Homo sapiens: one gene and its partner. The gene in region 2 interacts genetically with the main gene of each other region. Each region holds a gene or a part of one and is shown on either strand. Other genes may lie near its edges.

Region 1 (7,284 bases), on a different chromosome or scaffold from region 2:
TTAAAGTTTGTTAAATAAAAACAGATTTTTTCTTCCTAATGCATGTTTTCTCTTCATTTTTCTTATCTGAAGTCTTCCCTTGGAATATAAGTAAGTCTTCCTCCTTCCCATTTAATATCTCATTGCCTGATTGTTTTTCAGTTTAAACAACAGGAGAATCCAATAACAAATATTTACCAATAGCTAAGAGTTACTGAAAGTGCCTTCTTAGTTATAAAAAGTTAATCCATTTTTAATGTAAGGCAAGAAGTTCACAATTAAACCTAAGAGGATAATTTACTATAGATAGACGTGAAGTACCTAAAAAGAAATGAATATCCAATCTACACCTATATAATGGCAAAAATTAGAACTAGAGTTTCAGAGTCAGAGGGGACATTAATGTCAGGTCGGCAGGTCTGGGCTCACATCCAATCCAAACCAAGCTTTGCTGAGTGTCCCTTCCCTCCACTTTCTCCTGAATCATTCCCCCTTGGGCTAGGAGTTTCCAAGAAGGCAAATAAACTAAGATAAGCAACAAGAGCAAAGAATGGCAACTCAAATGTGCAGTTCAAGGCTTTGAATACGAATTTTTTTTAACACTAATGAAAAAGGTAGTATCATAGCTCTTAAAATATTGAAATACTTCTCTCTGTCCAGTATCAGCAGATAATGCAGAAAAGCCCATTGGGAACATGTTCCTCTCCTTCAAATGCCACTTAGAAAGCTTCATCATTATTCATAAATGATGAATAGAAGTCTGGGCATGGCCGGGTGTGGTGGCTCATACCTGTAATCCCAGCGCTTTGGGAGGCTGAGGTGGGTGGATCGCCTAAGGTCAGGAGTTCGAGACCAGCCTGGCCAACATGGTGAAACCTCGTCTCTACTAAAAATACAAAAATTAGCTGGGTGCGGTGGCACGCACCTGTAATCCCAGCTACTCAGGAGGCTGAGGCAGGAGAATCGCTTGAACCTGGGAGGCGGAGGTTGCAGTGAGCTGAGATCGCGCCACTACACTCCAGCCTGGGTGACAGAGCAAGACTCCGTCTCAAAAAAAAAAAAAAAAAAAAAAGTAGTGTTTACAATATAAGGGAAATTGGGATCCCATGTTCTAATTCAAAGAATTTAAGGCTATTAACCATTTTAAAGTTCTCATGTTTAAGCTTCTCACTTTATCCTTCTTTATTCAAGAAAATCCATAATACAAAGTATTGGCAAAGATGTGAGGAACTGGAACTGCCATACACTGCTAGTGGGAGTGGAAATTGGTGTAACCACTGTGGAAAACCGTTTGACGGTATCTACCAAACCTGAACATATCCCTTCCCTATGATCCAGGAATTCTACTTGTGGGCATAATCCTTTATACTGGTGTTTATGTCCACCATATATAAAACAATGTTCACAGCAGTGCTATGCATAATTACACAAAATTGGAACAACTTCCATGTGCTTCGTGAACATAATGGATAAAATAAATTATAAGATCTATTCATACCACGGAATGGTACCAGCAATTAAAAAAAAAAACACTGCTACAGAGAACAAGGTTGAATCTTATTATTATAATGTTGAGTAAAAGAAGGTGGACATAAAAGAGCACACGATGATGGTTTGGTTTACATGAAGTTCAAACATAGGCAAAAGCAATCCATGGCATCAGAAGTCAGAATAGTGGCTACCTGGGGAGGGGGTACTGACAGAGAGGGTGGAGCTAGAATTGCTCTATATCTCAGTCTGATCGTGGTTATTTGGGCACGTACATATGTGAAAACTAATGAAATTGTACTCTTAAGATGTGTGCATATTTACTGTGTGCCAATTATACTTCATTTAGAAATATCTGGAGAGAGAGACATAGAAATTTCTGAATTCTTTCCTAAATAGAAAAGAATTCCATGCAGCTTAAATATCGTTGCAAGTATTGATGCTTATACCTTTAGAAAGCCCATTATGCTTCTGAAAAATGCACTTACTACTTAATATCATACATAATAGAAAGCTAACATTTTGTATTAACGGAATCTGGAAAACATATTGTACTACACATTTGAAATTACAGATTTACTAACTAGTAAAGATAACTATTTAAGAACTAAAATGTCTTTGTTTTTCAACTCTTTTCCCCCGATTTCCATTTTTTACTTTTTATATTTCAGAATTATTTGTAACAAAAGCTATTGGATATAATTCCTGCACTTCTATATTGCAAGCATTTTCTCTATTTACCACAGAGACTTCAAGTCCTAGCATTTCAGAGCTGAAGGGGACTCGGACGGACTCCCTCACTGCACAGATGAGGACGCGGAGGCCGGGGGAGGTGAGTGTCAGTCCCAAGGTTGCAGACCTAGGACAGGGACCGGAGCTGCCGGGCACCCAGAACTCTGTCGCCTTCAACCCAAATTCGATTCAGTCCTCTCATCTTTCCAAATAGAAAGCTGACGCGAACCGATGGGAAGATTTTTTTTTTCAATAACAACTATGCTACCCAGCAGATTCTTTGGGGACAGTCCTCGGAGTCCTTGAAAACCCCTTTGGGGTTTATGCCAGGATAAGAAGAGACTAGAAGAAAGGGACAGCTAGTATTTTAATATGTAAATCTGTTTGCATAATATTTCCTAGGTAAACTATTCGTTGATCCAACCAAAATTCGGCGGGGCTGGGGGGTATCGTTATTGAGGATGACTCGCTCTAGGGGAGAACGCGGACGCATTTTCCCATCAGAGTTCCCTCCATAAATCAAAACCTCAAAAGAAGAGTTAAAGACGACACCCAGGTGTCTACAGTATCCAAGGGCCGGGCCAGGAGAGGTCCTTGGCCACCTGGCGCCGAGTTCGCGGCCGCAGACTCCCACGGACGGCCCAGCACCCGAGCGCGCGGGCCGAGCTGCCCCAGACCCGGCGCAGCGCCTCGGCGAGGCCGTCTGCGAAGTCCGGGCCGCCACTCGGGACCGCGGCCCGAGCCAGAGGAGAGACTTCGGAGAAGAGGGAAGAGGACGCGGGGTGGGAAACGCCGGGGCCGCAGGCAAGTAGTGGGCGAGTCCGGAGGGCGCGAAAGAGGGGAGGGGCGCGGGAGGCAATGGAAGGAGCGAGCGCGGGGAGGAGCGAGGCGGCTGGGCCGGAGGAGGCGCGCGCCCGGGTCCACACTGCGGGGTGGGGGCTGAGGGACCGCGAGGGGCTGCGAGCGAGCGAGCGGGGCCTTACCGAGCAGCGGCAGCTGGCCGCCGTCGCGCGCCAACGCCGGCATGGCCTCCGGAGCCCGGGGTCCCCAGGCCGCGCCGGCCCAGCCCTGCGATGCCGCCTGGAGCGGCGCGCCTCGCGCTGCAGGTGGCTCTCTTAAGGATGCGCGTCACCGACCGCAAATTCCCTCGGACTGGTGCAAAGTGGAAGGGGGGAGGAACCCTCTCCCCAGAGGCAGGGACCGAGGCGGGAGCGGAGAGGTTGGGCAGAGCCGAGCAGCCGGTGCCTGGCGCAGCGCTGCAGCCGAGCCCACGTGCCCGCCGCGGTCCGCAGCCTGTGCTCGGCGGCCCCCGGGGCTCCCCGACTGCGGCGGGGAAGATTGGGCGCGGTCCCGCCGGAGAAGTTGCACTGGCTCCGCGGCTCTGCCGCCTTGCTGCCCCTGTGAGTCCCCGAACTCTGTCGTTTGGATCCGGGGCGTGGGGACTGCAGGGAGCCACAAACCACCCTCCTAGTGCGCTGGGATCTTTGAGGCCCTGAGAAAGGCGCTGAATCCGCTCGGCACGCTGGCAACTCCCGCCAGCGCACAGGCGAGCATTCCATTAAGAACCATTCCATTCTTAATTGTGGACTGATTTCCTTTGTCTCTGCCTCCATCTCCTAGGATGCTCAGGACCCAGTCAGCGGCGGGATCAAGAAAAACAGGCAGGGTTTCAATGTCAACCAAGGCAATTAGGGAGGTTAACAAACAGCCTTCAAAACAAAACACACAGAAAATACATCCCAGAGGATGTTGCGAATCATCCGCTCAATAGTTCTTGTTCTTCATCGCATAATTTTTCGAGTTGAAAATTATTATTATTTTCTTTGCAATAAGTTGAGGATTGGAAAGCTCTGGATGCCAGTTCTGGTTCTTCCCTTACTTAACTAGCCGTTTGACCTCCACAAACCTCTGTTTACTCATCGTAAAGGAAAGGGATGGACCAAATGGTTCATAATGTCTCTCCCAATTCTAGGAATTCCACGCTCTTAATTATTTTAATTATTTTCTAATAAAGCATGAAAATTGACTGTTTACTCTTGGCCATACAGTTCTTTTCCTTAGATGTTGTCTACAGTACAATAATTCTTTCCCCTAGGGTATGGCAGAAACTTTAGAAGTGTCTACCATGGTGCAGCCACTATGGAAAACACTATAGAGGTTTCTCAAAAAATTAAAAAAAATACGGTCCAACAATTCCATTTCTGGCCATGTAGCCAAAAGAATTGAAAGCAGGGTCTTGAAGAGATGTCTGTACACCCGTGTTGAAAGCAGCATTATTCACAGTAGTCAAAAGGCAGAAGTAACCCATGTCCACAACAGATGAATGATAAACAAAAATGCAGTATATACATACGACTGAGTATTTTTCAGCTTTAAAGAGGAGGGAAATTCTGATACAGCTAAAATATGGATGAATCTTGACATTATGCTAAGTGAAATAAGCTAGTCCCAAAAAATACAATACTGTATCCCATTACAAATTCATAAAGACAGAAAGTTAAATGGTGGTTACCATGGGCTGGGGGCAGGGGGAAATGGGGAGCCAGTGTTTAATGGATACAGAGTTTCAGTTTTGCAAGATGAGCAGAGTTCTGGAGACTGGTTGCACAACAATGTGAATGTACTTAACGCTACTAAACTGTACACTTAAAAATGGCTAAGGCTGGGTGCGGTGGCTCATGCCTGTAATCCTAGCACTTTGGGAGGCCGAGGTGGGCAGATCACCTGAGGTCAGCAGTTCGAGACCAGCCTAGCCAACATGGTGAAACCCCATCTCTACAAAAATGCAACAATTAGCCAGGCGTAGTGGCGCATGCCTGTAATCCCAGCTACCTGGGAGGTTGAGGCAGGAGAATCACTGGAACCCGGGAGGCAGAGGCTGCAGTGAGCTGAGATCACACCACTGCACTCCAGCCTGGGTGACAGAGTGAGACTCTGTCTCAAAAACAAAAACAAAAACAAAAAGTTAAGATGGTAAATTTTATGTATGTGTATTTTACCTCAATTTTAAATTTTTTAAGTTTTTGTGTAGCTGCTGGGGGTTTAAAAATTTTTTTAAAGAGTGTTGTGTCTACCTTAGGTCAGAAACAGAAGTGAAGGAAGATGGCCTGAAATAAGTGAAACATGAGGAGATAAAGCAATGAAACAGGCTGGTTATGGGGAGAAAAGCGAGCTTCCAATGGCCAAGACCTAACACACTACCTTCTATTTAAAGCTCAATTACTGTCTTAAAGGAAACTGATTGGCTGGGCGCTGTGGCTCATGCCTGCAATCCCAGCGCTTTGGGAGGCCAAAGCGGGTGGATCATTTGAGGTCAGGAGTTGGAGACCAGCCTGACCAACATGGTGAAACCCCATCTCTAACAAAAATACAAAAATTAGCTGGGCATGGTGGCACTGTAGTCGTAGCTACTTGGGAGGCTGAGGCAGGGGAATTGCTTGAACCCAGGAAGCAGATGTTGCAGTGAACTGAGATCATGCCACTGCACTCCAGCCTGGGCAACAGAGCAAGACTTGGTCTTCGCCGGGCGTAGTGGCTCATGCCTGTAATCCCAGCACTTTGGGAAGCTAAGGCAGGTGGATCACGAGGTCAGGAGTTCAAGACCAGCCTGGCAAAGATGGTGAAACCTGTCTCTACTAAAAATACAAAAAATTAGCCAGGCGTGGTGGCATACGCCTGTAATCCCAGCTACTCAGGAGGCTGAGGCAGAGAATTGCTTAAACTTGGGGAGCGGAGGTTGCAGTGAGCCAAGATCGCGCCACTACACTCCAGCCTGGGCGACAGAGGGAGATTCCGTCTCAAAAAAATAAATAAATAAAATGAAAAACTAAAAAAAAAATGAAACTGATTATTACAAATTTGCAGAACATCAGCTTGAGTGCAGCAGTATTCAGGATACAAAATCATAAAGATACTGCTGCTTTGTCCAAGAATCTTGGACACAAGGCAGAGATCTTCATGAAAAAGGGGGTTGGTGAGAGAGGAGAAGTTAGGAATGGTTTCTTTTTTTGAGACAGAGTCTTGCTCTGTCGCCCAGGCTAGAGTGCAGTGGCACGATCTAGGCTCACTACAACCTCCGCCTCCCGGGTTCAAGCGATTCTCCAGCCTCAGCCACCTGAGTAGCTGGGATTACAGGCACCCGCCACTGCGCCCAGCTAATTTTGTATTTTTAGTAGAGAAGGGTTTCACCATCTTGGCCAGGCTGGTCTCAAACTCCTGACCTCGTGATCCACCCTCCTTGGACTCCCAAAGTGCTGGGATTACAGGTGTGAGTCACCGCGGCCAGCCAGGAATGGTTTCTAGGAACACTTGATTTTCCGTGGAAATTGGTGGAAAAAATAATTCTAGAAGGAGCAAATCTTATAGACTGAAATATTTTGGAGTATGAGGTATAGGCTAACAGAAGGTGAAGTAATGCCCATGTTTTTCTGTGATGTGCCAAGAGTCATATCTAATATGAGAACTAATTTCTTCCTCACAGCAACACTTAAGGAAAGTAGCCTGAAATTGTCTAGAGTCCTGGATTACACGCCCAGGTATGCATGCCCAAGTATGAAATTTTGGTGTCAGAGTTCATGATAGGAATTCTGTAATAAAGAAACTCTTAAAGGGTCAAAAGCAACTAGAAGAAATGAGCTGAAACGGGAAATCGGAAAAGAGAAGAGTAAGTTTGTTTCTGGGTTGAATGGAGTGTCTAGTGCTAACTCTACGAAAGGATGTATTTTATCTAGATTCTTAGCACCATGATGCTTAGCCATGAGTAAGTGGTCATCTATCTTACCAGCATCTTGATACCATGTTTCCACCCCTTAAGTCACACAAATATCTCCTCTCCCTTTCCTCTCTCTCTCCAAAAATTGTGACATAGTTTCGTAGCAGCTCACAGGTGAAATACTTTCATGTCATTTTTAACTTACAAAGCCTTATGTTTTCCTGAAAATCAGGGACAAACAAAAGGAATATTTGAATAGGGTTCATGTGAGTTCAGTTGAGATATCAACTTTATAGTATAATTTTACACATCTTTTATTAATAGGGGCTTTGAACTCACCAATTGGCAAAATCTGACAATACAAAGTGTTGACA
Region 2 (5,153 bases):
AAAATCAGAAAAGGAAATAAAACTCTTTACAATGCCAACGACGGGCCCGCCACGGTGGCCCACGCCAGTAATCCCAGCACTGTGGGAGGTGAGGTGGGTGCATCACTTGCACTCAAAAGTTCAACAACAGCCCGGGAAACATGGCAAAACCCCGTCTCTACAAAAAAATACAAAAGGGAAAAGAAAAAAATATGGCGGAAACAAAACTGCTCTTATTCCAGGATGATATGTTTCTGTATATTGAAGACTGAAAACGACCTAGAAGTAAACTTTAGAATTCACAAGCATATTTCACAAGGCCGCTGGATAGAAAACCAATATGTAAGAATTATGTCTCCACCGGGCACGGAGGCTCATGCCTGTAATCCCAGCACTTTGGGAGGCCAAGGCAGGTGAATCACGAGGTCAGGAGTTCAAGAGCACCCCGGCCAAGATGGCGAAAGCCCATCTCTAGTAAAAACACAAAACTTAGCCAGGCGTGCTGGTGGGTGCCTATAATCCCAGCTACTCGGGAGGCTGAGGCAGACAATTGCTTGAATCCGGGAGGCGGGGTTGCAGTGAGCAGAGATCGCGCCACTGCACTCCAGCCTGGGCGACAGAGCAAGACTCCGTCTCAAAAGAGGACAAAGAAAAAAAGAAAAAAAAAGAACGATGTCTCTACATACCAGCTCAGAGAGTTACAATACACGATTTCAAAGAATGATACATATTTCACAGCATCAAAAAGCTAGAAATAAACTTCACAAAAGATGCGCAAGACTTCTTTGCAGAAGGCTGTAAAGCTTTATTGGGAGAATTTTAATGAACAAATTTCCAACATAGGAGCAGCCTGCATCATTTCAACGTGTCTTCTTTTAACACTGTGATTGCTTTTCACCTGTAACAGAAACACAACGATTGGGAACATGACTTAGCAACAGATTATTCAGATGACCCTAAAGGCATACAAAGCACACTACAGTTTGGGTTTTATTAAATGGACTAAAAACAGAACCCTATGGGAGATCCCGTGTCTTACACGCAATTGAACCTCTGCATTAACTTTGAGCGTAGACCTGCAGAATTTAAAAGGAATTTCCTCCCTGAACATCAAGTGCTTCCTTTCAAGTCACAAGCACTTACAATTAACAGTCAGCAATTTGGAAAACACATGCGTAAAGCATACTTCAGTTGATTACTCAGGAAGTACTAGAGTCATGGTCTTTCAACTTCAAATCTTATCAATTCATGTCTCTAAAGGTGAAACTTACATGTAACATTTGATATGATTAGAGATGATTATATCGTATGTGTGTCTACAGTCTTATTAGAAATAGTGGCTCATGAAGACTGACAGTGGGGCAGGGAGCATGCATAGCACAGGCATCTTACTCACACCCATGCTGAGCATCACTGACCTACATGCCACAGATGATACGAACTAAACGGTCTCTCGCCATTTGATATTTATTTCAGTCACTCAAGGTTTCCGTGGGGAAAGTTTTAAGAAGCAATTGTACCATTTGACCCAGCCATCCCATTACTGGGTATATACCCAAAGGACTATAAATCATGCTGCTATAAAGACACATGCACACGTATGTTTATTGCGGCATTATTCACGATAGCAAAGACTTGGAACCAACCCAAATGTCCAACAACGATAGACTGGATTAAGAAAATGTGGCACATATACACCATGGAATACTATGCAGCCCTAAAAAATGATGAGTTCATGTCCTTTGTAGGGACATGGATGAAACTGGAAATCATCATTCTCAGTAAACTATTGCAAGAACAAAAAACCAAACACCGCATATTCTCACTCATAGGTGGGAACTGAACAATGAGATCACATGGACAGAGGAAGGGGAATATCACACCCTGGGGACTGCTGTCGGGTGGGGGGAGGGGGGAGGGATAGCACTGGGAGATGTACCTAATGCTAGATGATGAGATAGTGGGTGCAGCGCACCAGCATGGCACATGTATACATATGTAACTAACCTGCACAACGTGCACATGTACCCTAAAACTTAAAGTATAATGATAAATAAATAAATAAATAAATAAATAAATAAATAAATAAATAAAAGAAAAAAAAAGAAGCAATTGTTCATTAAAAGCCAGAGAAACCCTGCCTGGGCAACACAGTGAGACCTCATCTCTACAAAAATGAAAACAAAAAAATGTAGTCAGGCACGGTGGCTTGTGCATGTAGTTCCAGCCACTCGGGAGGCTGAGGTGGGAGGACGGCTTTAGCCTGGGAGCCAGAAGTTGCAGTGAGCTGAAATTGCATCACTGCACTCCAGCCTGGGTGACACACTGAGACTCTGTCGCAAACAAACAAACAAACCAAGAAGAGGGAGAATTCACAATTTCACAAGATCTTACACTACGTATTCAGCTCTCCACACGGAAAAACTAGGATGAAGCAGAGGGCCGGCTCACTGTCTTACTGACAATGAAATCTCAATTCAGAGATTTTCAGATGACTCGGGCCAGGGTTTCATGATTTGTGATTAACAAACCATGCGAAGCAGATGATCTCTGTGTCCCACGCATTCTATGCAACAGGATCAGAGTATGAAAGAAACGGAATGCAAAATGGTTTTAAAATCTCTGACTTAAACTCACTATTTTCATAAGAACCAAAGATAGGTTTAGAAGGGAAAGGACTCACTCAGAATCTCGCCAAGGCTGTAAGAGCTGGTATTAGAACCCGCATGAGTGCTTCAGCATTTTTCACACCAAGTGATGGGTGTTACAAACGTGTTATGTATTGATTAAAAGCAGACCTTTACAAAAGCATCTGAAAATTGTGAGCTACTGGTTTAAGGATTTACACTCAAAACTTTTAATTCAACATAGCTTTGACTCAGTTTGTTTCCCTACCTGACAGTCTATCAGTCGGGTGCTGGGGCCTGAACTACGTTTCAAATAACCTTTATATAAGAACTCTGTTACTAAAGAGGCAGTATTGTTACCTCTCCGTTATTAAAAATATAATGCTGGGTCGGGCACGGTGGCTCTCGCCTGTAATCCCGGCAATTTCAATGGTCGAGGCAGGTGGATCACCTGAGGTCAGGAGTTCGGGAACAACCTGTGCAACATAACGAAACCCTGTCTCTACTAAAAATACAACAATTAGCTGGGCGCGGCGGAGCATGCCTGTAAGCCCGGCTCCGCCAGAGGCTCAGGCAGGAGAATCACTTGAACCCTGGAGACAGAATTTCCAGTGAGCCGAAATGGCACCACTGCACTCCAGCCTGGTCTTCAGAGCGAGACTCCGTCTCAAAAACATAGTAACAATTACAATATGATACTGTGGAAACAGACACCCTACAATGTGCATGCCTAATGGATTGCCTACCTTCTTCAGGCGTTTTCACCTCCTCTGGATTTGGCGGGTCCATCTCCTGCCCATCAGGACCATCTTCACACTCACACCCAGTCTGTGGGTGACCCTGTTCCTGGCTATGAGCTTCAGGCTTCGGCCCTTAAAAATAAAAAATACGTATCAATTTAAGCAGTAAAACATAAAGTATGAATAAGAAAATAATATTCATGCTCTCGGTATTATTATATAAAAGCTTTAGCTAACGTAATAATAAATGTGTTGATAAGAATCCCAGGAACATTATTTCAGGAGTCCATTAGCAGAAAACAGGAAAACAAGGTGTTCCAAATAATACCCTCTTCCTTTCCGAAGACTGCCCTCAGACAACTTTGCTGCCTCCTTTGCACTTCTCTCTTATTCTACTTCTGATTGTCCTTCTCGTATTAAATGACTCAAGGCTCAAATCCCGTCTCTCACAGCACTTACACTCCTAGCGCTTAGACTCTTACATGGCATGAGTAGCCACCAATAAACGCTGAGTGAGAAAACTCTTTTAAAAATACATGAAAAAGCCCAAACTGCAGAATATTCTGCAAACCAACTGGTCTATCCTCTCCAAAAATGTCCGTATCGTGAATGACAAGAAAAATTAAGGAAACATTACAGGTTAAAGGAAACTAAAAACACCTGAAAAGCACATGCAAGGTGTGATTCTGAACTGGACTCTGGATCAGAAAAAGAAATCCTATCAATAAAATTATCTGGGCCGGGCGTGGGGTCTCACGCCTGCAATCCAAACATTTTGGGATGCCAAGGTGGGCAGAGCAGGTGAGGCCAGAAGTTCAAGACCGCAGTGGCCGGCGCCTGTAGTCCCAGCTACACGGGAGGCTGAGGCATGAGAATCCCTAGAACCTGGGAGGTGTAGGTTGCAGTGAGCCGAGATCGCACTACTGCACTCCCACCTGGCCCACAGAGAGAGACTCCGTCTCAACAAAGAAAAAAAAAAGGAAAAAAGAAATTTTCTGGGGAACTGGCAAAATTTGAGTATGCACTCTGTATTAAATGACTCCATTTTCTCATTGTTAAATTTCCTGATTTTTATCTTTGTGCAGTGATGATCCAAGAAATGACTTTCTCTTTGTTCTGACGATATACACACCCTCAAGTACATAGGGTAAAGGACCATAATCCCTGAAACTTTATCGAGACAATTCACCATTAATAACAGTAAACATATATCCGTATGTGTGTGTGTGTGTGTGTGTGTGAGTGTGTGGGCAGCACGGTAAGAGACGGAGGGAAGAGATGTGAAACCTATGAAGCGAAAGCTACTAACAATTGGTGAATCCAGATGAACAGTATATGAGTTCATTGTACTATTCTTGCAAATTTTCTATGAATGTTATGTCTTGAAGATACATACAGTAAAAATTTAAAAGAATATATGATAACTGCACTGAACTTTAGGAAGAAAGGAATTTCCAATTGTGGTAAAAAATACAGATATCCTAAAATTTACCATCTTAACTATTTTTAAGTGGTACAGTTCACTAAGGAGTTACGTTTGCAACATTACCAGCCACTAGGCACAAAAACTTTGCATCTGTGTTTTCCTATACCATGAAAACTTTATTTATTTAATGAATTTATTTATGTGTTTATTTATTTATTCATTTATTTATTTATTAGCAATGAGGTCTCACTGTGTTTCCCAGGCTGGGCTTGAACTCCAGGACTCAAGCAATCCTCTCACCTCGGCCTCCCAAGTAGCTGGGACTATGAGTGCATGGCATTCAGCCCAGCTTTAGACCTTTCTCCTAAATGACAATCTAAG

What was found.
Region 1: changes in GAGE12D (region 2) and FLT3 together harm fitness less than expected from each alone (positive genetic interaction), as found in Homo sapiens cells (one study listed by BioGRID).

What each region holds. Positions count from the first base shown.
Region 1 is NC_000013.11:28,097,286-28,104,569, forward strand, and holds the start of FLT3 (receptor-type tyrosine-protein kinase FLT3 precursor), read right to left. Parts: upstream 3,292-7,284; 5' UTR 3,226-3,291; coding exon 3,183-3,225; intron 1-3,182. UniProt on the Homo sapiens protein: Tyrosine-protein kinase that acts as a cell-surface receptor for the cytokine FLT3LG and regulates differentiation, proliferation and survival of hematopoietic progenitor cells and of dendritic cells.
Region 2 is NC_000023.11:49,544,705-49,549,857, reverse strand, and holds the end of GAGE12D (G antigen 12B/C/D/E), read right to left. Parts: intron 3,479-5,153; coding exon 3,353-3,478; intron 878-3,352; coding exon 855-877; 3' UTR 764-854; downstream 1-763.